7 linked regions of the Homo sapiens genome follow. The gene in region 4 interacts genetically with the main gene of each other region. Each region holds a gene or a part of one and is shown on either strand. Other genes may lie near its edges. The genes, in order: MTRES1, GPN3, EBNA1BP2, CDK1, GTF2E1, MRPS23 and PSMD1.

Region 1 (3,500 bases), on a different chromosome or scaffold from region 4:
AGTCTCCTTAAAGCTCATTGTTTTCACCGTGGGCCAGGCATTGCTCTACACGTTAACTCATTTGTTCCTTGCGACAAGCCCATCTCAGTTATAGGGTCACACAGATACTCTTCAAATCTAGGCATCCGAGCTGCAAAGCCTAGACTCATTACTACCATGCTGAACTGTCCATCAGTGTTCTGACTCCAAGTTAAGCACTCTTTCTTCCACACCCTGACATCTATTTTCCTTTTTTTTTTCTGGAATAAAAACTCACCAACCAGTGCAATACCAGAGAGAACAGATAGTTTTCAGGGGTAGAAGAGTGGGAGGAACTGTTGCCCCAACTTAGAAAATATCCTAAGAGGAGACACCTAGGGAAGGGAAGTAGTCCTGTTTCTGTGTCAGACCCTGGGTGCCCACACTCCCCATCCATAAGTTCTATTTTTATGTTTTTCAGTATCTTTTTTACACTCTTTTCCTGACTTTGAGAAAAGTCCTAGCTTTATACCGTACCGTTGTTTACTTTGAGGAATGCCTAGATATGATGTGGCTCTCTGCTACCTGCATTAGGAAACCTTTCCTTGCAGAAAATAACTATTTAGAATCAGGTGCACTTGTAAATTCAACAAACATACCAAAATGTCAAGCCACGTATTCCCTTGTGTTTATTAGCTACTCACTACCTCTCATTGTGATCAGCTTAACTTTCTAGCAGGCAAACATTGGCAAATGTTGGAAGCTTAGATAAAATTCATTAAAAACATAAAATTGAGGAAACACATTAAGCTAATTCTTGCTGGAGATGATGACCATTTGTAGTTGTTAGCAGTGGGCACTCAGGGTCACAAGGGAGGACCCAGATTCTGCCTCAGAACTTTGTTATTATTATTATTATTTTTGAGACGGAGTCTTGTTCTGTCGCCCAGGCTGGAGTGCATTGGTACAATCTCAGCTCACTGCAAGCTCTGCCTCCCAGGTTCCTGCCATTCTCCTGCCTCAGCCTCCCAAGTAGCTGGGAGTACAGGCACCCGCCACCACGCCCGGCTAATTTTTTGTATCTTTGGTAGAGACGGGGTTTCACCATGTTAGCTAGGATGGTCTTGATCTCCTGACCTCGTGATCTGCCCAGCTCAGCCTCCCAAAGTGCTGGGATTACAGGCGTGAGCCACCGTGCCCGGCCCTGCCTCAGGACTTTGAAACTGGTCAGGGGAGCCCTGAGTTGGAAGTGGGGGTGCCAGAGAAGAAAGCTAACCAGGCACCCAGCTCCTCTCAAGCCAAAGCAGCACTGGAGAATACTGGGTTCCTTATAGCTCACTTGAAAAAAAAAAAAAATCTACTACTGAAAAATTCCTGTCCCTTTGTCATGGTCTCCTCTTCCTCCAGACTCCACACGAGTCACATCCTCCTCTACCAAGCCATGCCCCACATGCCCTTTTCCATACTCTGGTTGCACCAACACTACACATTTTTTTGTTACTTTTGAATTAAGTCACAAATTATCTCCCAAACTCTAAGTGTAGTGATAGGGACTACACAGTGCCCTGTTCTTCACTCCTCTGCTCAGGACATACCAAAACCAGTGAATGGTTGCAGATTCAATTTCTAGAAATGAAATGAGCATCCTGCCCATTACTATAGCCACCCCTACAATCACTCGTTCGCCCACATATGCCAAGTTCCTGGGTAGGCCTTGGTATAAAACACACAGTCCTTGTCACCAGGGAACTGCCATTTAAGTGGAATGTGGACAAGTAAACTGACTGCCAGGGCACAGATGTGAAAGCAGGTCCGGGGAGGCTGAACCCTGCACCAGCTGGAGCGCAGAGCAAGGATGCCTACAAAGTTCTGAGAGCAAAGGTGGCCTGAAACCGAGCTATGGGGAAATATCAAGTTACAACAGTGATTTTTTTGCTTGATAATGGACCAGTCCATTGGCATGCTGTTATTTTTCTCTCATTCAAGGATGAATGAGGATGAGCATTCAAGGATGCTCAGGCATTTTTTTATTTTTTTGAGATGGAGTCTTGCACTGTCACCCGGGCTGGTGTGCAGTGCTCAGCTCACTGCAACCTCCGCCTCCTGGGTTCAAGCAATTCTCCCGCCTCAGCCTCCCCAGTAACTGGGACTACAGGCACACGGCACCACGCCTGGCTAATTTTTGCATCTTTAGCAGAGATGGGGTTTCACTATGTTGGCCAGGCTGGTCTCGAACTCCTAACCTTGTAATCCGCCTGCCTCGGCCTCCCAAAGTGCTGGAATTACAGGCGTGATCCACTGCACCCAGCTCAGGCATTCTTGCTCTGAGCTCCAGCTGATGCAGGGTTCAACCTCCCCTGGACCTGCTTTTACATGTGTGCCCTGGCAGTCAGTTTACTTGCCCACATTCCACTTAAATGGCAGTTCCCTGATGACAAGAATTGCGTGTTTTACCAAGGCCTAGCCAGGCACTTGGCATATGTGAGGAAATGAATCAACGTGGGGGTGGCTATAGTAAAGGAGAGGATGCTGTTACTTTTGTCTCATTCAAAAGCAAGCAATTACACAAACCTCTTGCCTCCACTCCTCCCCAGCTACCACCTCTTTTCTTGCTCCTCTTTACCATAAAACTTCTCAAAACAGTTGTCTAACTCTCCTCAATTCCACTCCTTTCATTTTCTAAATCCAAAAGGTCATGTTAGTCCTCATCTTAATTGACTCCTCAGCAGCACTTGAAAAAACCGATCACGCCTCTCTTCTTCACTTGGTCGCCAAGACACCTTACTCTTGGTTTTCTTCCTGTCTCTCCTGTGGCTGCTGCTTCTCAAGACTCCTCTGCTGGCCGGACACGGTGGCTCATGCCTGTAATCCCAGCACTTTGGGAGGCCGAGGTGGGTGGATCACCTGAGGTCGGGAGTTCGAGACCAGCCTGACCAACATGGAGAAACCCTGTCTCTACTACTAATACAAAAATTAGCTGAATGTGGTGGCACGTGCCTGTAATCCCAGCTACTCAGTAGGATGAGGCACGAGAACCGCTTGAACCCGGGAGGCAGAGGTTGCAGTGAGCTGAGATTGCGCCATTGCACTCCAGCCTGGACAACAAGAGTGAGACGTCTCAAAAAAAAAAAATAGCTGGGCACGATGGCAGGCATCTGTAATCCTAGCTACTCAGGAGGTTGAGGCAGGAGAATCACTTGAACCTGGGAGGCGGAGGCTGCAGTGAGCCGAAGCCATTGCACTCCAGCCTGGGCAACAGGAGCGAAACTCTATCTCAAAAAAAAAAAAAAGAAAAGACTCCTTTGCTGCCTCCTTCTCTTCTCCTTTTTTCTTTTTTTTTCTTTTTTTTTTTTTTGAGACAGGGTCTTCCTCTGTTGCCCAGGCTGGAATGCAGTGGGTGGCGCGATCTTGGCTCACTGCAACCTCTGCCTCCCCAGTTCAAGCCATAGTCTCCCACCTCAGCCTCCAGAGTAGCTGGGATTACAGGCGCCCACCACCACACCCGGCCACTTTTTATATTTTTAGTAGACACAGGGTTTCAC
Region 2 (3,136 bases), on a different chromosome or scaffold from region 4:
CCTAATTTTTTTTTGTTTTTGAGACAAAGTCTTACTCTGTCGCCCAGGCTGGACTGCAGTGGCATGATCTCAACTCACTGCAACCTCCGCCTCCCGAGTTCAAGTGATTCTCCTGTCTCAGGCTCCCGAGTACTAGGATTACAGGCGCACACCACCATGCCCAGCTAATTTTTTTTTGTATTTTTAGTAGAGACAGGGTTTCACCATGTTGGCCAGGCTTGGTCTTGAACTCCTGATCTCAAATGATCAGCCTGCCTTGGCCTCCCAAAGTGCTAGGATTACAGGTGTGAGCCACTGCACCTGGCCTAATTTAAAAAATTTTTTTAGAGATAGGGTGTCACTATGTTGCCCAGGCTGGTCTTGAACTCCTGGACTCAATCTTGCTGCCTTGGCCTGCCAAAGTGCTAGGGTTACAGGCATTAGCCACTGCACCTGGCCAAAAAATCCAAACTTTAAAAGCTTACCAGTCCACATATAGCTTTAGTCAGTTTCTTGAATTTTTTGCTTCTTAAGTCACTTGTAGAATCTTCTAATAAAGAATACATGTCTGGATCTAAAAATCTTTAAAAGACAGAAAGACTGATGAATTCAGGAGACTAGGTTTATAAACCAGCCAAACTTCCCATCTAAATAAAACAGAAGGTTCATCTCTGCAACTGAGATCTGATAATAATGGAAGAACAGTGAACTCACTTCTCAATTTCCTTTTTTGCTTTTTTACTCAGCAGATCCATTTTTGTCATGATGTTGACTTGCGGAATTTCTAGAGAGATCATGGCACTCAGGGCTGCCAAGATGCCAGAAATAAACTGAAGGAGGAAACAGAAAAGGGAAGATGAACTGACTGTTGCCAACAGTTACCTGGTCTGCATAAAGAGTCTTCTATTCCTCACTGGAACAGAACTGGCCTAAATAAAAGAAATGCAAGCTGGACGTGGTGGCTCATGCCTGTAATCCCAACACTTGGGGAGGCTGAGGCGGGCAGATCACCTCAGGTCAGGAGTTCAAGACCAGCCTGGCCAACGTGGTGAAACCTTGTCTCTACTAAAAATACAAAATTAGCCAGGCATGGTGGCATGTGCCTGTAATCCCAGCTACTCAAGAGTCTGAGGCAGGAGAATCACTTGAACCCAGGAGGCGGAGGTTCCCGTGAGCCAAGATTGCGCCACCACATTCCAGCCTGGGCAACAACGGCAAAACTTGGTCTCAAAAAAAAAAAAAAAAAAAAAGAAATGCCAGTTCAGAACATGTGGAAAAGGCAAAATTATTTATATTTTATTAAAAGTAATGCTAGCCATATAGAAAAAAATGTTCCCAAATCATTGGGAATCAAATGCTTGATTCTTGGTTCCCAAAGGTGAGGGAAGATATAGATAACATACAGTGATCACAAATTTCAATTTAGACAGCATTTTAATTTCCTTTCCCATCTAATATTCCTTAAGAGCTATTAATAAAAAATTTGATCTTGGTAGTTCATAAACTGGACAAAAGGTCCTCAGAAAATTAAAAATAGACTATTTTATAAAATAGCCATCTGCTTCAGTTTTTTCTCCCCCACTACTTCCTCTTTTTTTTTTTTTTTGAGACAGAGTCTCACTCTGTCACTCAGGCTGGTGTGCAATGGTGCGATCTTGGCGATCTTGGCTCACTGCAACCTCTGCTTCCTGTACTCAAGCGATCCTCCCACTTCAGCTTCCCAAGTAGCTGGGACTACAGGCATGTGCCACAACGTCTAGCTAATTTTTATATTTTTTGTAGAGACAGGGTCTCACTCTGTTGCCCAAGCAGGTCCGAAACTCTTGGGCTCAAGCAATCCTCCTGCCTTGGCCTCCCAAAGTGCTAAGATTATAGCTGTGAACCACTTCACCCAGCAACCTCAGTTTTTTTCTTGGTAAGCAGTTCCTCCTAAATCTCTATGATATAATAATTTACTATTTTTGATTAACAACATGTTATAATTTAATAATAAAAGGGATAAAGTAACTCTGGAATCATTTGTGAAATGTTCAGAATCACACAATAATTAAAGGAACTGTCATCTGCTTGAACTCATAGTTTAAAAATCTTTAAGAGAACTTTGGGAGGCCAAGGCAGGTGGATCACTTGATGTTTGAGGTCAGGAGTTTGAGACCAGCCTGGCCAACATGGTAAAACCCCGTCTCTACTAAAAATACAAAAATTAGCCAGGCATGATGGCACACACCTGTAATTCCAGCTACTCAGGAGGCTGAGGCACAAGAATCACTTGAACTGGGAGGCGGAGGTTGCAGTGAGCTGAGATCACGCCACTGCGCTCCAGCCTAGGCAACAGAGTAAGACTCTGTCACACACACAAAAAAAAAAAAAAAAAAAAAAAAAAAATCTGTAAGAGATTTAGCTTCAGACCTTGAATGACTCCACCATGAACTGAGAATCAACAAGAAAAACTCCACAGACTCGGAACTCCCACTGCTCGAGCTGCTGGACCAGCTGTTTCATCACAGGCAGGTGAGTGTACAACTCAATCTGACCTACATGAAGAGTATTGCAAGAATTTTAGAAATAGCAAGTATGTTAAATCATCAAGTTAGAGGAAACAAATTTTCCCCATAAGATGGACAAAAATAAAAGCCAACACATTTTTAAGGGGCCCACAGCCTCTCAAAGCAATCATAAAACCTAAGGTACTGCCACCATAGGAATCCCTAACTATTAAGTTTTATGTAGAAAATGAGGTTCTCTGGTTGGGCAGGGTGGCTCATGCCTGTAATCCCAGCACTTTGGGAGGCTGTGGCAGGTGGATCACTTGAGGCCAGGAGTTCAAGACCAGCCTGACCAACATAGTGAAACCCCATCTCTACTAAAAATACACAAAAATTAGCCAGGCGTGGTGGTGCGCGCCTGTGGGATGCTGAGGCACAAGAATTGCTTAAACCCGGGAGGAGGAGGCTGCAGTGAGCCAAGATCACGCCACTGCACTCCAGCCTGGGCGACAGAGTAAGACTCTGTCTTTAAAAATAAAAAAAAAGAAAGAAAGAAAGAAAATGAGGTTCTTCACACTTTAGTTTTCTGCCAATCAATATGAGTGTTATTGGCCAGATGCCATGGTTCACACACCTGTAATCCCAGCACTTTGGGAGGCTAAGGTGGGAGG
Region 3 (2,803 bases), on a different chromosome or scaffold from region 4:
CTGGGCTACAAATAGGCAGTTTGTATAATGAAACAGACAGCACACTGGGAGCGGGAAGGTGACTTTCAATCTCTGGCTTCACTCTGGCACTTTTGGTAAAGTGCTCAGCCTGTGGGCCCCATTGTCCTCAGGGGTTGGAACTGATGATTTATAAGTTCCGCAGTTTAAAGAACAGGGAATATCTGTTCCCTGCTCTAGCGAATCCTAAGTAGTGGTCATTCCAGATTCAAATGACATGAACTGACAGCATTTTGTGTTGTAGATTCGACAGAAGCTGCAGACTAAACAGGCTGCCATGGAGAGGTCTGAAAAAGCTAAGCAACTGCGAGCACTTAGGAAATACGGGAAGAAGGTGAGAAGAAAAGTGTGCAGGGAACAGGAAGAGGCGGAGTGTGTGTTAGATGAGATTGCCGTGGTCTGACTTGGTCCCCTGAACTGAACGGAACTGTGTGTTGATCATGTATTTACCGTCTCTCAGTGTATGTGCTGGTATTCATGAGCACAATCTTGCCTGGACATGAGTGGTTCCCCAGGAGTAGTATGGTGACTGCAGGTGAGCCAATCACCTCTCTGGGCGTTAGTTTTCACATCTGTACACTGGGTCCAGATGAGTGGTTTCCAAACCTGACCTTATAGCAAAATCACCAGGGGAAATTTTTCAAAACAGAATTCTAGACTTCAGAATCCCCAGGAATCTGTGCCTGTTTTCCCCTCTTCCCCAAAAGCTTTCCAGGTGATTCTGAAATGCATCCTGGTTTGGGATTCACTGATCTATGTGATAATCACGTACCTGAAGAAATTATCATAATGATTGTCATCCAATCTGAAAGATTGCCTGCGTGTTTGAACTATGAATGTCTGAGTTCTAATGTAACACCAGATCAGGCATACCCTAAAACTTTTCTTGGTTTTCCTTTTTTATTTCATGGTCATCTAAGAAAGAAGATGACAGATTTTAAAGTTAGGATTGTGGGAAGAAATGAATGTGAGGAAGATTGGTGTGGGTGTTAAGACTTCGTCAACATTTGGACATAAGCACTTGTGATCTGGGCTGCAGAACTCTTGTCCACGTTTGGAGTCATTTCACTGATACATTCTCAGCAAAGTAGGAATAGGCTGGGATCCTGTCCTCTACAAAAGGCCTGCTGCGGATTTATTATTTCTTTGATCTGGAGGTGGATGGCTGAGATTCTCTCAAAGACACCAGTAATTAATTTAACATAGCCAAAGTTACCAAAAGCAAAGACAAACTCACTTGGGCCTATTAGTTCACTGTTCCTAATTTAAGGAAACACTGGGGAAGAGTTTGTTAACTGGGGGTGAATTTGCTCCCCAAGAGTTTTCTGTGACTGCCTGGAGATATTTTTAGTTGTCAAATTTGGGAGGGAGGGTACTACTGGCATCTAGTAGGTAGAGGGCAGGGGTGCCGCTAAATATCCTACAGTGTAGGACAGGCCCCTACCCCCCAGCAAAGAATTATTCTCTCCACACTGTAGCAGTATCAAGATTGAGAAACCCTCTGTTAGAGTATTATAAAGTGTCTCCTTTTATCCTTCAAACTTTTTTCTTTTCTTTACCTGGGGACATTGTTTTTTTCTCTTCCTTTTGGTACTTTCATGCCTAGTAACAGTGAGTTAGATAATTAATCTGTCCAAATGTGATGCGAAAAATCGATGTAGTCTTAAACATGATTTACTTCAGTTTTGTAGGCAGGATTGTATAATAGGGTGAGTGCTGGCTTTGGAGTCAAACAGCCTGGGTCATCTTGGCTGTGCATTTTTTCACTGTGCGACTTGGGCAAGTTAACTTCCCTGTGCTTCAGTTTAGGGGATAACACAAATTTCAACTTCACTGGATTGTTATGAGACAGATATATCTTCATCTATGAAGAATATACCTAGATCTGAGAATATACTTAGAGTCCCTAACACAGTTTTTGGCACGTAGTAAATGTCAGAGGGTAGTGGTATTAATCATGGTGTTGCTATTAAGACAATGTAGACACTGGAGTAATGGTATGGAATGGCTGTAACGGTCCTTGTGTTCATATCACAGGTGCAAACGGAGGTTCTTCAGAAGAGGCAGCAGGAGAAAGCCCATATGATGAATGCTATTAAGAAATATCAGAAAGGTTGGTACATCTCTAATAGGGGAACGAGGGTAGCAGGTACTTTAGAGTTGATTTGAACACTTAGTGCTTTGGAGCCTTCTTGGTTGATGTGGACCTGTCGGATCAAAGTTTTGGGAATGGTGTTGGAGAGCAGGATGTGACTCTTAAAATCAGTGTAGCAAATAACAGCCTCATATGGTGGTTTAAACTTTTATTCTTAAAATACAATGGTGCTGATCAAAACTACTTCTTCACTTACAGGCTTCTCTGATAAACTGGATTTCCTTGAGGGAGATCAGAAACCTCTGGCACAGCGCAAGAAGGCAGGAGCCAAAGGCCAGCAGATGAGGAAGGGGTGAGAAGGGTTTTGGCATGGTTTCTTTGGTTCTGTGAGGTGCGATGGGGCCACAGGTCACGAGTATGGCAGACATAGCACCTCCACCGGCGCAGCCATAGAGTCCAGAGAGTGCAGCTGCTGCCTGGGGCCAGGACCCCTATGACTGTGTGATGGGCCCTTTTAGCCATGTCAGTCTTTGAAGAGTAAAAGAAGGCACTTTTTAAACTTCTTTTTTTTTTGGACAGTCTCATTCTGTCACTCAGGCTACAGTGCACTGGTACAGTCTTGGCTCACTGCAACCTCTGCCACCTGGGCTCAAGTAATTCTGTGCCTCAGCCTCCTGAGTAGCTGGAACT
Region 4 (3,933 bases):
CAGTCTCCTGTATGTTTGGAGTTCTATCATCTTAAAGAAAAATATATTTATACTTTAAGAAGGTCTCTTTTTATGCCAAACTAAAACCAACACAAATTCTCTGGGAATTTAAGAAACACACTACACAGCATTAGACATACTAATCACATATTTTTAATTCAGCAGCAAAATTTGTTTAGTAGAATGGGTATGAGGTATTTAAGTGATTTAAAAAAAAAATATATATATATATGTATACACACACACACCTCCAATCGAACACCACACTAACTTGTCACTCCTATTCCACTAAATTCCCTCCAGTATTCCCCCTTGTTTTTCACTATTTCTTGTCAAGTGGGGTCTTTGATCACATTAAAAATATAGTTGGGAATTTTCTTCTGGCAGAACCTATATAAACTGGATTCTATTAGCAAATTATTTTGTACCTGGAGAATCGAGAATGTTCTGCTGGAGTCGAGGAACAGGCGAAGGGATATACCCCTCATTTGTGCCATATATAGATCTAAACATTCCTTCAAGTACCACAGAAAGGGAAGGATTATATACATAAGTTATAATTTTAGAATAGCTTAAACATGTCTATATGACAGGTCATTTATACTTAGGGTAACTAAATAGAAATTTTATTTAAATTAGATTAAGTCAATTATTGTAACCAGTCTATAAAGTCTGGATAAAAATATTTATCATCCTAAAAACAATTGAAAGAGACTAAAACTAAAAATATATTATGAAGTTAGCATAATTCTGCAGCCCTAACCTCTGCCCCTCAACACACATGCAAGTTATCAATAGTGTCTTCAAAATACAAGTACTACTATAAGTGTTTAGTATCAGAAGACTGTAAGACTATGGGGGTGAGGCGAACGGTCATTAGGGATTCGGTAATTTCAATTCTCTTGAAATGTGAGCAAATTTGCGTTTATTAAGTAAAGAACATATGTTAATGCACACTGGTACTACAAGACAACTTAATGGTTGAATTTTAATAAATATTTAAATGTGTTCATATTACAGAAGTTGTAGCATTGTTAAATCATTCCATAAAATTTATTTTACTAAAACCACTCACCTTCTCCAATTTTCTCTATTTTGGTATAATCTTCCATAGTTAGTCAATGGGTATGGTAGATCCTAAAGTGAAGGAAAAACTGACTTAATTACATGCCACTAACTCGAGTAGTTTTAAGCATTAATGAAACACTATATGTAAAGCATTTTCCACAGTGCCTACTGCAGCATAAGTATTCCATAAATATTAATTACATTCAAACAATATTTACAAGGGTAAGGACTCCTACAATAACTTTCCATCCTTCTTGACTCCTGAGACATTGGAAACGTGTATATTCTATACTAGTGTAGTATTTAGCTTCTTCCAATCAAAATAACCCTCAAATTCAGGTATCAACTTGTCTATTCTTTCCAAACAAAAACCAGAATTATGTTCCCTTTTTGTGACACTTTAAAGTAGTACCTGCGTGTGCCAAAGTTATACCCAAATATTTCAACAAATTTATACCGCTTTATGATACTCCTAATTTTATTCAAAACATTATTTTTTAAAGTTATGAGGACAGAACTAAAATGTGTTCAGACTGTTCATTAGGAAAATTTTGTTTAAAACGACAAAAACATTTTAAGTGTTTACAGTTGCCCACGTGACAATTTTAATCTTTTTCCTCTGCTTGCTGAGGTCACAGACAAACATGCTCAAGACTTTCAAGGTACTTTTTCCAAGAGTAGGAAATATCACTTAAGCACCGTAAAACAAAAGAATGAAAAGTGCAATTCCACAGATAAAATTCTAATTATAACCTAAACAATGTCAAGGACTAAGCAGAAAAACGGTATACTTGAATCACAATGAATGGGTTAAAAAAAAAAGCTGACAACCAGAAGTTCAAGACTTCCTCTGAAGTTTGCCAATGAAACGTCAGAACTCCAGGCATAATTACCTAGATTTTTCTAACACCCATCACTGATGATAAAATCATTTATAAAGCACACTCAGAATAGACCTTTAAGTTCTATTTCTCACATTCATCTTCAAAGAAAAATCAATCCAGAAAGAAGCAGAGATGTATCTTTTTAAATGAAAAAAACTGCACTACACTGCTCATGAGAGTTAAGTGCCTGGGCTGACTGTTCTTAACAGCTCCAGGTGGGCCGGGGCCGTGGGCAGAGCAAGCCCAAGAAGGCCCACGAGTTCCAGGATCGGTTTCTCAGGGCGGCCTGGCTCTAGGGACCCGCGCCTGTACCTGGCCCAGGTGCGGTCCCACTTTCCCACCCCCGAGGCGGGATGGCAGGGCGCGCAGGGGCCGGGCCCAGGAAAGAGCCTGCTACTCCGCAGGCGCTCAGCGTGGGGGAGCGGATTTTGCTTCAATCAAGACCCGAAAGCCTCTTCAGGCAGTTCCTGAGAACAGCCGACCTCGACTCATGACTGCAGCCCCGAACCCCCACCCCCACGCCGCCTAACCCCGCCAGGCTGGGCTCCCATAGCCTCCCTCTAAAGCCAGCCCAGTGTGGCTCACACGGCCAGACCCAGGCGAAGGCCCTGCCCACCGCCCCCCGAGGCCCAGCCGGGCCCCGCGCAGATCCCTGACCTCCAGTCCGGCCTTCTTAGAGGACCCCGTTCCTCAATACTCGCCCTCCGAGGCCCTCGGCCGTCCCCTAGACACGACCCTGACCCCAGCCACTGTACCCGGCTTATTATTCCGCGGCGGCCGCAGCGGCAGCTACAACAACCGCGTCGCTCTCCGCTCAATTTCCAAGAGCCAGCTTTGAAGCCAAGTGCGAGCAGTTTCAAACTCACCGCGCTAAAGGGCCCCGGATTCACCAATCGGGTAGCCCGTAGACTTTCAAAGCAGCCAATCAGAGCCCAGCTACGCTGGGCAGGCCTTCCCGGGTGGCTAGAGCGCGAAAGAAAGAGGAAAGGGCGGCTAGAGAAAAAGCAGGAGGGCGGGCGCCAACTGAGTGCGAGCGCAAGCGCTCTCCTCCAGTCGGGAGAGTGTCGTCCTACTGTTTCTAGTCAGCGGAGCAGGAAGCTACTGTTCGCTCCGTTCTTCTTTTAAATTTTTTCTCCCAGCATTGGCACAGTTCAAATTTATTATACTCAAAATAGCTCATCAAAAAAGTGATATTGTGTTTACATCGAGATTCCATTACTTTCACTTCTAATACTTAGGGTTAGGAGTGTATAGTTATGTTTTTCTAAATGCGTGATTTGCGGGCTGGCTCCAAGGAGCACATTTCAGTGACCTTAAGAAGGAAATGGAAAACTCAAAAGACCGCCTCAAAAATGTAAAGGAAAATTTATTATTTATATCGCTGTGCTTTGTTTCTACCTCATTTTTGAATTTAATATTAAATTATTTTATTATTTACATTTTGTTTATTATACAATTAAAAACATTTGAAATGTATTAAATTTTAAAATATTTTCACATCAGAATTTTAAATATATAGAGAGAGGCATGCATTTAGAGACTGGGTCTCATTATGTTGCGCATGCTGGCCTCCAAATCCTGGGCTCAAGCAATCGGCCTCAGCCTCCAGCGCAGCTGCGACTACAGGCACTCGCCACCACGCCTGGCTTAAATATAATTAAAACACAAAAATTCACAATTCTATGAGGGGAGAGAAAGAGGCTTAAATTATGCTTTAAATAATCCAGTGTCAAAAACTCTGTCTTCATTGCCATCCATCATATCCTTGAGAGAGATTTCTGCACTTACTGCAGTTAATTTTTTTTTCCTTTTTCTTGTTCTTTCCTTCTTTCTCTCTTTCTTTCTTACTTTTTTTTTTTCTGTTTGTTTGCGGAGACAATGTCTCCTTATGTTGCCCTAGCTGGTCTCCAACTCCTAGGCTCCAGCAATCCTCCTGCCTTGGCCTCCCAAAGTGCTGAGATTACAGGCGTGAGCCACCAGC
Region 5 (3,500 bases), on a different chromosome or scaffold from region 4:
TAAAGGGTATTCAATTAGGAAAAGAGGAAGTCAAATTGTCTCTGTTTGCAGATGACATGATTGTATATCTAGAAAACCCCATTGTCTCAGCCCAAAATCTCCTTAAACTGATAAGCAACTTCAGCAAAAAGTCTCAGGACACAAAATCAATGTACAAAAATCACAAGCATTCTTATACACCAATAACAGACAAAAAGAGAGCCAAATCATGAGTGAACTCCCATTCACAATTGCTTCAAAGAGAATAAAATACCTAGGAATCCAACTTACAAGGGATGTGAAGGACCTCTTCAAGGACAACTACAAACCACTGCTCAATGAACTTAAAGAGGATACAAACAAATGGAAGAACATTCCATGCTCATGGGTAGGAAGAATCAATATCGTGAAAATGGCCATACTGCCCAAGGTAATTTATAGATTCAATGCCATCCCCATGAAGCTACCAATGACTTTCTTCACAGAATTGGAAAAAACTACTTTAAAGTTCATATGGAACCAAAAAAGAGCCCACACTGCCAAGTCAATCCTAAGCCAAAAGGACAAAGCTGGAGGCATCACGCTACCTGACTTCAAACTATACTACAAGGCTACAGTAACCAAAACAGCATGGTACTGGTACCAAAACAGAGATATAGACCAATGGAACACAACAGAGCCCTCAGAAATAACGCTGCATATCTACAACTATCTGATCTTTGACAAACCTGAGAAAAACAAGCAATGGGGAAAGGATTCCCTATTTAATAAATGGTGCTGGGAAAACTGGCTAGCCACATGGAGAAAGCTGAAACTGGATCCCTTCCTTACACCTTTTACAAAAATTAATTCAAGACGGGTTAAAGACTTAAATGTTAGACCTAAAACCATAAAAACCCTAGAAGAAAACCTAGGCATTACCATTCAGGACATAGGCATGGGCAAGGACTTCATGTCTAAAACACCAAAAGCAATGGCAACAAAAGCCAAAATTGACAAATGGGATCTAATTAAACTAAAGAGCTTCTGCACAGCAAAAGAAACTACCATCAGAGTGAACAGGCAACCTACAGAATGGGAGAAAATTTTTGCAACCTTTTCATCTGACAAAGGGCTAATAACCAGAATCTATAACGAACTCAAACAAATTTACAAGAAAAAAACAAACAACCCCATCAAAAAGTGGGCGAAGGACATGAACAGACACTTCTCAAAAGAAGACATTTATGCAGCCAAAAAACACATGAAAAAATGCTCACCATCACTGGCCATCAGAGAAATGCAAATCAAAACCACAATGAGATACCATCTCACACCAGTTAGAATGGCAATCATTAAAAAGTCAGGAAACAACAGGTGCTGGAGAGGATGTGGAGAAATAGGAACAGACTTTTACACTGTTGTTGGGACTATAAACTAGTTCAACCCTTGTGGAAGTCAGTGTGGCGATTCCTCAGGGATCTAGAACTAGAAATACCATTTGACCCAGCCATCCCATTACTGGGTATATACCCAAAGGACTATAAATCATGCTGTTATAGAGACACATGCACACGTATGTTTACTGCGGGACTACTCACAATAGCAAAGACTGGGAACCAACCCAAATGTCCAACAAGGATAGACTGGATTAAAAAATGTGGCACATATACACCATGGAATACTATGCAGCCATAAAAAAGGATGAGTTCATGTCCTTTGTAGGGACATGGATGAAATTGGAAACCATCATTCTCAGTAAACTATCGCAAGAACAAAAAACCAAACACCGCATATATCTCACTCATAGGTGGGAATTGAACAATGAGAACACATGGACACAGGAAGGCGAACATCACACACTGGGGCCTATTGTGGGGAGGAGGGAGCGGGGAGGGATAGCATTAGGAGATATACCTAATGTTAAATTACGAGTTAATGGGTGCAGCACACCAACATGGCACATGTATACATATGTAACTAACCTGCACATTGTGCACATGTACCCTAAAACTTAAAGTATAATAATAATAAAATAAAAATAATAAAAATAAAAAATAAAATAAAATAAAATAAAAACCTGGGCTTCGGGAGGTGGAGGTTGCTGTGAGCCAAGATTACACCATTGCACTCCAGCCTGGGCAACAAGAGCGAAACTCAGTCTCAAAAAAAAACAAAACAAAAAAACAAAACAACACAAAACTGGGCTTTGAAATTCAGAGTACACAGCCTGTGTTTTGGTAACTGTGTAATCCTGAGCAAATCCCTTAAACAATTTCAAGCCACCTTTTACTCGCTAAGAAGTAAGGATAGTATCAACTACCTCAGTGGAGTTGTTGTGATTAATAAGAATATAATTAAAGTGCTTAGGAAGGACAGCTTCCATATCAACTTAACATGTTCCAAACTAAAAATGGCTAGACTATCCACACAGATTAAATCAAGTTAAATTTCCCTAGGCCACAGGGAATTTGTTTTTCTTTTCATAGAGAGAGTGTCTTGCTCTGTTGTCCAGACTAGAGTTCGGTGGTGTGACTTGGCTCAGTGCAGTCTCAACCTCCTGGGCTCAAGCAATCTTCCCACCTCAAACTCCCCAGTAGCTGAGACTACGGGTGGACACCACCATGACTGACTAATTTTTGTGTTTTTTGTAGTGACAGGGTTTCACCATTTTGCCCAGGCTGGTCTCGAACTTCTGGGCTCAAGGGATCCACCTACCTTGGGGGCTTCCTAAAGTGCTGGGATTACAGATGTGAGCCACCACACCCAGCCCACAGGATAATTTTTTTTTTTTTTGGAGACAGGGTCTCGATCTGTCACCTAGGCTGGAGTGCAGTGGCGCAAGCTCGGCTCACTGCAACTTCTGCCTCACAGGTTCAAGCAATCCTCCTGCCTCAGCCTCCTGAGTTGCTGGGACTATAGGCATGCACCACCACGCCTGTCTAATTTTTGAATTTTTAGTAGAGACAGGGTTTCACCATCTTAGCCAGGCTCCACAGGATAATTTTTAAGAGAGACATCCCATTGAACTATTTCAATGGAGAATCATATTCTGTTATTAATACTAGTTTCAACTAACCCTTTTATTTGAAATCAGTGGTTATCAACCCAACAGATTTAATACTCTTTTTATAAGAAATATTTTTATATCCACAGTACCATACTATAAGGAAACTCTATACACCAATCTATAACCAATCTATGCATATATTTTGGGGGGAAAATATAAGGCCCTTCCTGTAATAAAGGAAAAGTAAAAGTCAGTCAAAAGAAAATACGTACTTTAGGTTATAAATACTCAGGTATGACTACATATTGTAAGATATAACAAAGTAGCACCTAGATCCAAATCTGTGAACTTAGAGCCTTCCTGCTACCCCAGGGCTTAAGGATGCCTGGGAAGTACCTGGGCTCGACACCAAAGTAGTACCACAGCATACTACTGGACACACTTTTCTCTCCTTTTCGGTTTGGTCTATACATTGTACTTGAACCCCGTTTTCATTTTTTGTTGTTTTACATCCTCAACAGTTGTCAGAACA
Region 6 (2,882 bases), on a different chromosome or scaffold from region 4:
CAGCTTTCTCCCCATCCAGATATTTGCTATACAGGGATGGTCTTTCCCTTCTGGTCCAGAGTCCCAGTCTGGTTTAACAAGATCAGAATGTGTAGGGGAACGCATTCTCATACATTGCTATGAGAGTATAGTTAAGCACAATTTCTATGGACGAAGATATCAAAACTCAAAATGATCTGCTCCTTGATCCAGCATCCCATAACTCTAGCAGCCCATTTGCAACACAGTAAAACAAAGAACATTTTCTTCAATCGGGCACTGATTAAATCACAGTGGATCTCTGAGACATAGTAACTAGAAAAGCAAGGTACAGAACAGTATGCATAGTGTCCTGTCCATGCCCAAAATATTTCTGGAAGAGCGCACAAGGAAATGGTGATAGTGATGGCCTCAGGGAAGGGGAAAAGGGTGGCTGGGGAACAGGGGTGGGAGACTAGCTTTTTACTGTTAAGTTTTGAACCATGTGCATGTATAATTTTTTTAAAGAATTATGCAACAAATAACTTCTTTAAAAGTCTTCAGCCCCAGTACGGTCGCTCAGGCCTGTAATCCCAGCACTTTGGGCGGCTGAGGCAGGAGGATCGCTTGAGGCCAGGAGTTTGAGACCAGGCCAGCCTGGGCAACATAGCAAGACTCCATCTCTACAAAAAAAAACAAACAAAAAAAATGTTAAAGAGCCAGGCGTGGTGGCACATGCCTATAGTCCTAGCTATTCGGGAAGTGAGCCAGGATGGCTTCAGCCCAGGAGTTAAGACTGCGGCAGGGTATGCACCACTGCACCCAGCCTGGGTAACACAGTGAGACCCCCATCTCCTAAAACAAAATTAAAAAAAAAAAAAATTAAGGCCAGGCATGGTGGCTAACACCCGTAATCCCAGCATTTTGGGAGGTTGAGATGGGTGGATCACTTGAGGCCAGCAGTTTGAGATCAGCCTGGGCAACATGGTTAAAAGCCCGTTTCTACTAAAAATACAAAAATTAGCCGGGCGTCATAGCATACACCTGTAATCCCAGCTACTTGGGAGGCTGAGGCAGAAGAACTGCTTGAACCTGGGAGGCGGAGGTTGCAGTGGGCCAAGATGGCTCCACTGTACTCCAGCCTGGGAAACAAAGTGATACTCCATCGCAAAAAAAAAAAAAAAAAAAAAAAAAAAATTAAAAATCTACAGAGGAGGAAAACAAACAAAAATAGCAAAAATGGGACATCAATCCAGACATGAAGGAAAAAAACATTTTTTAAATATTCATCATTGTGGCAAAAAAAACCTGCCCTTAAAAAACCAGAAACCTAAGGTTTAAAGAGATGAGTGACCCCTCAATTGTTCCTCTGAGAATAGACTGTGTCTTTCACCTGCTTTTTAAGTCCTCTTCCCAAGGTCTGGCCCGATGTTTGGTCTCAATGGTTGTGTAATGTCTCTGAATGGATGAAATTTACTTCCCTACGGAAAAGTAAAGCATTCTCCAAATGCAAGCAGTTGTGAAACAGTGATAAAGGTCGAGGGGGAAGCAGCATGGCTGAGAGCTGCTTTTGCCTAATGTATTCATTCACCTGCATGAACCAAGCACCCACGTGCATGGATGTGTACTATATACAGACTGTGAGATGTGGACCTGCCTCACAGTGTACCAGGAGAGATGAGAGCATACACAAAGAATCACTGGGTAGAAAATCTACATGAGTTTTAAAATAGGGAATTTCTGAAGCAGCTTACTACTAACAGCTAAAAACCACTGGCTTGACCACATATACAAAGGCTGCAATCTCAGAGGGATATTTCATGTATTTAGTAAAACCTGGGGAAACGAGGAAGGCAGGGAAGTTGATAAGGACTTGTAGGCACACTTTGGCCCCAGGGAGGCAGGTGGATGCTGGTGGAGAGCATCACCTAAATTAGCTGCCTCCTTTCTTGGCAATCCTGTTATCTACACCATATGAATCCAGTCTTTAGCTGGATATAACCATTCGTTCACTCATTCATTCAACAAGTATTTACTGAACAGCCTAGTCTGTGCAGGCCTATGTTAACTGTCTCCAGCACACTCAATCCATGACATTAAAGTTACAGTTTTGGTCTTTGTGTATCAGCAATGACAGGTCCTCACTCTTACCACAAAGCGCAAGTCAGCTTGGCCTCTCAAGTGGAGAGATAATCGTTCTATAGCAAGAAGTACAAAGATTCTCTGCAGACAAAACCAGCTAGCCAAGGTTCCACAACATGTGTACACGTATAAGTCTGATGGATCAGAAGAAATATGTACCCGGGAATCAGATGTAGCCAGCCCACATACTAACAAACATCAAAGCAAGCCTAGTCAGATTGAGTCCCATTTGAACAATCTTTATAAAGGTTTCTTCATGTTATTTACAATTCAAAGTAAATTTACTTTATAAGCAGCTAGGGAATTCTTTATTTAGTAATGTCCTAACATAAAAGTTCACATAACTGCTTCTGTCAAACCATGATACTGAGCTTTGTGACAACCCAGAAATAACTAAGAGAAGGCAAACATAATACCTTAGAGATCAAGAAACATTTACACAGTTCAACTGTTTAAAAATAGCTCAACATTCAGCCAGTGAGTAGAGTGTGAATGCCAGCATACACAGTATACAGGTCCTTCAGGGAGGCAAGAGACCTTTCGACTGGTCTGCAGGTGCCTCCAAATGCTGGTCCTGTGGAACTTCTTTCTGAGTCTCGTTTTCTTCCAACGCAGTCTGTGGTCTGACACTCAAGTGTTCGGATTTCCGGGAAACGTGACTACCTCCGTGTTGCTTAAAAGACCAGATTTAAGTATCACAGAGATGTTATCATTTTCACTCAATTAATTCGCTAAAGATATATAACTAGGCACATTCTGTCACTGAGTGAAAAATTTAGCAC
Region 7 (3,500 bases), on a different chromosome or scaffold from region 4:
TCATTTACTACATCAACAGTTTTCAAGCATTTTTTTACACTATAAAATCTTTGTATCAAATCTTACATAACTAGTTGAATTTACAACTCTGGTTGAAATATGTGTCAGAAAATTCAAAGCCTTGCCTGTGTGTTATCCCCTTCCTTCAAAAATAAGGAAACAAGTAAGAAAACAACGGTTACAAATAGAAACAGTATGGGTTTTAGAGTGAGTAAAACCAGGTTTTAAATTTTATCCTTCTATTTAATAACCATGTCTTTATCATCTCAAAATCCAAGTTGTCTCATCTGTAAAACGGCTAGCTCCTTCCTCATGGGGTAGCTGTGGAATAAACCATGGTATGCAGAGTGACTAGCACGGTGCCTAGCACAATGCAGATACTAAATAATGGTTTCCTGTATTCGAAAAAACTACACAAACTGGTACCACTTGTTACTCATACTAATCTGATTTAATCTTTTCCTCTAACAGTAGGCTCACTGGACTGGTGATCATCATAACCACTGAGAACCAGCACTCAGTTGAAGGGCAGATCTAAAAACTCAGCCTGCATAAAATTATTATAGAAAGATTAGGAACTTCCAATTAAAATGAAATTTGGCAACATCAAATTCAGGAAAAAAGCTTCTATGTGCACTACAGCAAGAAAGAAGCCGACAAGATAAAGCCTTACCAGATAGACGATAATTACCTATAATAGTTTCCACATATTCAGAGTTATCATTGACATTGAAGAGGTCCCCTGCTCCAAGAGCATAATTCAGAGACTCCTCAAAAGCCCCCAGGTGATAAAATACTTTAGATGCCACTAAGGCTGCAAACTGCCGACTCCGGAAACCTTCATCTTCGTATAAAACCTCTCTGAAAGAAATTAGGAAGTACAGGTCTAGTTCAAACTGTGGTTTTCCCTAAAAATCCCAAATCTAAATATTCAAGCCACAATTCAGTTAACAGCAAATTTCTAAATGAATCAATAAGCCACAAGACCCACATTCACAATTAAATTTGATCCATCTTATTCTGATTTATAAAAATAATTTCTTACATTTTGTCTACGGACTCGGAAATTTCTGCCCAGAAGTCATTAACAACTGCATTCAATTTGTGTAGTGCAAATTCCTGTAAAAGATAACCAAAATCCTATTTTGAGATAGACTTATCATTACACTTCCTTAAAAAATTCTTTTCAGCAAATCAATGATCAAATCCTCAGTAATATTTACTCAAACTTTTACTCTATGACAAATATAAAAATTTACCAACTTACACTTTTTCTTGAGTTTACACATTTCTTTTCTGTTTTCAATCATCAACATTTTTCTTCTTTGAATATAAACAATTAACTCCAGGTTGCTGGTTTAGATGTAAAGGAATCAAGTATCTAGAGCCACCAGAAGGACATTCCAAATTTTCATCAAATAAAAAACTTTAAATATGTGAAACAGAAGCAACAACTTTTTGTGTTTTCTGTTGATAATGAAACTGGGGCGGGGGAAGCGGAAGGTGTGGTGGCTCAGACCCGTAATCCCAGTACTTTGGGAGGTCAAGGCGGGGGGATCACTTGAGCCCAGGAGCAGGAGTTTGAGATCAACCTGGACAACACAGTGAGACCCCATCACAACAAAAAATTTAAAAATTAGCTGAGTGTGGTGGTGCATGCCTACAGTCCTAGCTACTTGGGAGGCTGAGGTGGGAGGATCATTTGAGTGTAGGAGGTCAAGGCTGCAGTGAACCATGACCACACACTGCACTCTAGCCTGGGTGATAAAGCGAGACTCTGTCTCAAAAAAGAAAAAAGATTAAAAAAAGAAAAAAAAGAAAGAAATTAGGGGGCTATTCAAGTGTCGTAACGAGGTTTATTTGTCTTAGCTTTGTTAAACTCAAGGGAAACCAACTGCTGTGGCCAAAATACTGTCCTCTCTGGCTAGGTTACAGTAACTGGGTACAAGCCAGCTAGGACAGCAACTTTAAATGATGGAAGATTACAGATATCACTAAATTCAAAAGGCTTCACAGTATTCACACTAAGCCTAGTTACTTATTCTTCAATTCATACCTTAAGCTGTGGTTCATCTTCATCCAGAAGAGAAATAATTCCAGCTATGAGAAAAAAGATGTAACATGATTATGAAACACATTCTCACTAAAGTGGAAATTAACACCTGGTCAAAAATACATGATGGCTGAAAAACAATTTTTTTGAGGCGTAACTTCTCCAGGGGAATGATTATTTTTCTTTGAAAGTGTAAAGGTTTATATCTCAAGTTTAAGACTTAACTATATTATCAAACCCTCATGGCACCACATATATTACATCATTTGCCTAATTCAATGGTTTTCAGTGTGTTCCCTGGACTAACAGCATTGCCTGGGAACCTGTTAGAAATACACATTCTCGGCCCCATTCCAGACCTACTGAATCACAAATTATGAGGATGGGGCCCAGTACTGTGATTCTTTTGCTCTCTATAGTTTGAGAACCATTGGCCTAATTTACTGATTAAAATGGGAAACTTTCCTATACAATTTTAGAATAAAATTATTCATACAAAATAAATCAACAGTTATAAGATTATTTACAAAAATGGGAGCATTTAGTCATCAAATCAACAAGGTAAAATACTTCAATTATTTCAAGGTGTGTATATTATGGCACCTCTTTCCTATCACAAGTAACCTGGGTTTTACCAAATGATGAACAATCATACTCATTCTGAATTCAATTACCCAAGCACAGTGTTCTCCATATGGCTTCTCTTAGCCTCAAGGTATTACCACTAACATAGGAGAGTAAAAGGAATAATTGTCCTCTCCAAAAGAACACACCTTGAAATATAGTCAAAGGTCAAAGGGATTATTGGAAAAATGATATGGGAAATTATTGTACTAAGACCACAAAGGAAACCACTCTCAAATGCTTTCCATGTGGGTTTTAAAATCATTCCAGAACACCGAGTTGAAACTGTGGTTTGATTAAAAAGTGTCAAGGCAACTTAGTTAGATGTAGCCATTTCTAATTGACAAGTATAGGTTTGCCAAATAGCTTAAGCAATCTTTAGGAAGCCACACAGGAAAAGATACAAAATTTACCAAGCAAAACTAAAGTAGCATAAAAGCAGATATAAAGAACCTCTTGGTACTCTAGGTTGGTATGACAAGTCCAGAACAGAGATTCTGAATGGACAGCACAGGGAACAGATAAATTTCAAAATTCAATCAGTGAAAAAGAAAAAATTGCAAACTAGTGATGTGGAGTAAGATGACAGGCCAGAATGCTTTAAATGTAGAACAGATCTTAAATAACAGAACACTTAATACTAAAACTGCTACCTATCCTCAGTCAATGTATTTGAACGGCTTTTACCAAAAAGGGAGATGGATTTTTATATTCTCTGGTTTGGTTTCACTTATGACTAACTGGTTACATGGTTGTCCTGGCTTGGAAACTCAGCCTCTGGCCATGGACCAGAACTAAATCAAATACTCTACACTCCATACAT

Evidence for each region.
Region 1: changes in CDK1 (region 4) and MTRES1 together harm fitness more than expected from each alone (negative genetic interaction), as found in Homo sapiens cells (one large-scale study listed by BioGRID).
Region 2: changes in CDK1 (region 4) and GPN3 together harm fitness less than expected from each alone (positive genetic interaction), as found in Homo sapiens cells (one large-scale study listed by BioGRID).
Region 3: changes in CDK1 (region 4) and EBNA1BP2 together harm fitness less than expected from each alone (positive genetic interaction), as found in Homo sapiens cells (one large-scale study listed by BioGRID).
Region 5: changes in CDK1 (region 4) and GTF2E1 together harm fitness less than expected from each alone (positive genetic interaction), as found in Homo sapiens cells (one large-scale study listed by BioGRID).
Region 6: changes in CDK1 (region 4) and MRPS23 together harm fitness less than expected from each alone (positive genetic interaction), as found in Homo sapiens cells (one large-scale study listed by BioGRID).
Region 7: changes in CDK1 (region 4) and PSMD1 together harm fitness less than expected from each alone (positive genetic interaction), as found in Homo sapiens cells (one large-scale study listed by BioGRID).

Annotation. Positions count from the first base shown.
Region 1 is NC_000006.12:107,031,199-107,034,698, reverse strand, and holds part of MTRES1 (mitochondrial transcription rescue factor 1), read right to left. Parts: intron 1-3,500. UniProt on the Homo sapiens protein: Mitochondrial RNA-binding protein involved in mitochondrial transcription regulation. Functions as a protective factor to maintain proper mitochondrial RNA level during stress.
Region 2 is NC_000012.12:110,455,122-110,458,257, forward strand, and holds part of GPN3 (GPN-loop GTPase 3), read right to left. Parts: intron 2,514-3,136; coding exon 2,389-2,513; intron 810-2,388; coding exon 694-809; intron 562-693; coding exon 465-561; intron 1-464. UniProt on the Homo sapiens protein: Small GTPase required for proper localization of RNA polymerase II (RNAPII). May act at an RNAP assembly step prior to nuclear import.
Region 3 is NC_000001.11:43,166,488-43,169,290, reverse strand, and holds part of EBNA1BP2 (probable rRNA-processing protein EBP2), read left to right. Parts: intron 1-262; coding exon 263-352; intron 353-2,055; coding exon 2,056-2,131; intron 2,132-2,371; coding exon 2,372-2,465; intron 2,466-2,803. UniProt on the Homo sapiens protein: Required for the processing of the 27S pre-rRNA.
Region 4 is NC_000010.11:60,777,345-60,781,277, reverse strand, and holds the start of CDK1 (cyclin-dependent kinase 1), read right to left. Parts: upstream 2,801-3,933; 5' UTR 2,708-2,800; exon of another isoform or gene 2,610-2,707; intron 1,138-2,609; 5' UTR 1,113-1,137; coding exon 1,076-1,112; intron 1-1,075. UniProt on the Homo sapiens protein: Plays a key role in the control of the eukaryotic cell cycle by modulating the centrosome cycle as well as mitotic onset; promotes G2-M transition via association with multiple interphase cyclins.
Region 5 is NC_000003.12:120,745,744-120,749,243, reverse strand, and holds part of GTF2E1 (general transcription factor IIE subunit 1), read right to left. Parts: intron 1-3,500.
Region 6 is NC_000017.11:57,837,163-57,840,044, forward strand, and holds part of MRPS23 (small ribosomal subunit protein mS23), read right to left. Parts: intron 2,774-2,882; coding exon 2,621-2,773; 3' UTR 1-2,620.
Region 7 is NC_000002.12:231,059,867-231,063,366, reverse strand, and holds part of PSMD1 (26S proteasome non-ATPase regulatory subunit 1), read right to left. Parts: intron 2,101-3,500; coding exon 2,057-2,100; intron 1,120-2,056; coding exon 1,046-1,119; intron 862-1,045; coding exon 692-861; intron 1-691. UniProt on the Homo sapiens protein: Component of the 26S proteasome, a multiprotein complex involved in the ATP-dependent degradation of ubiquitinated proteins.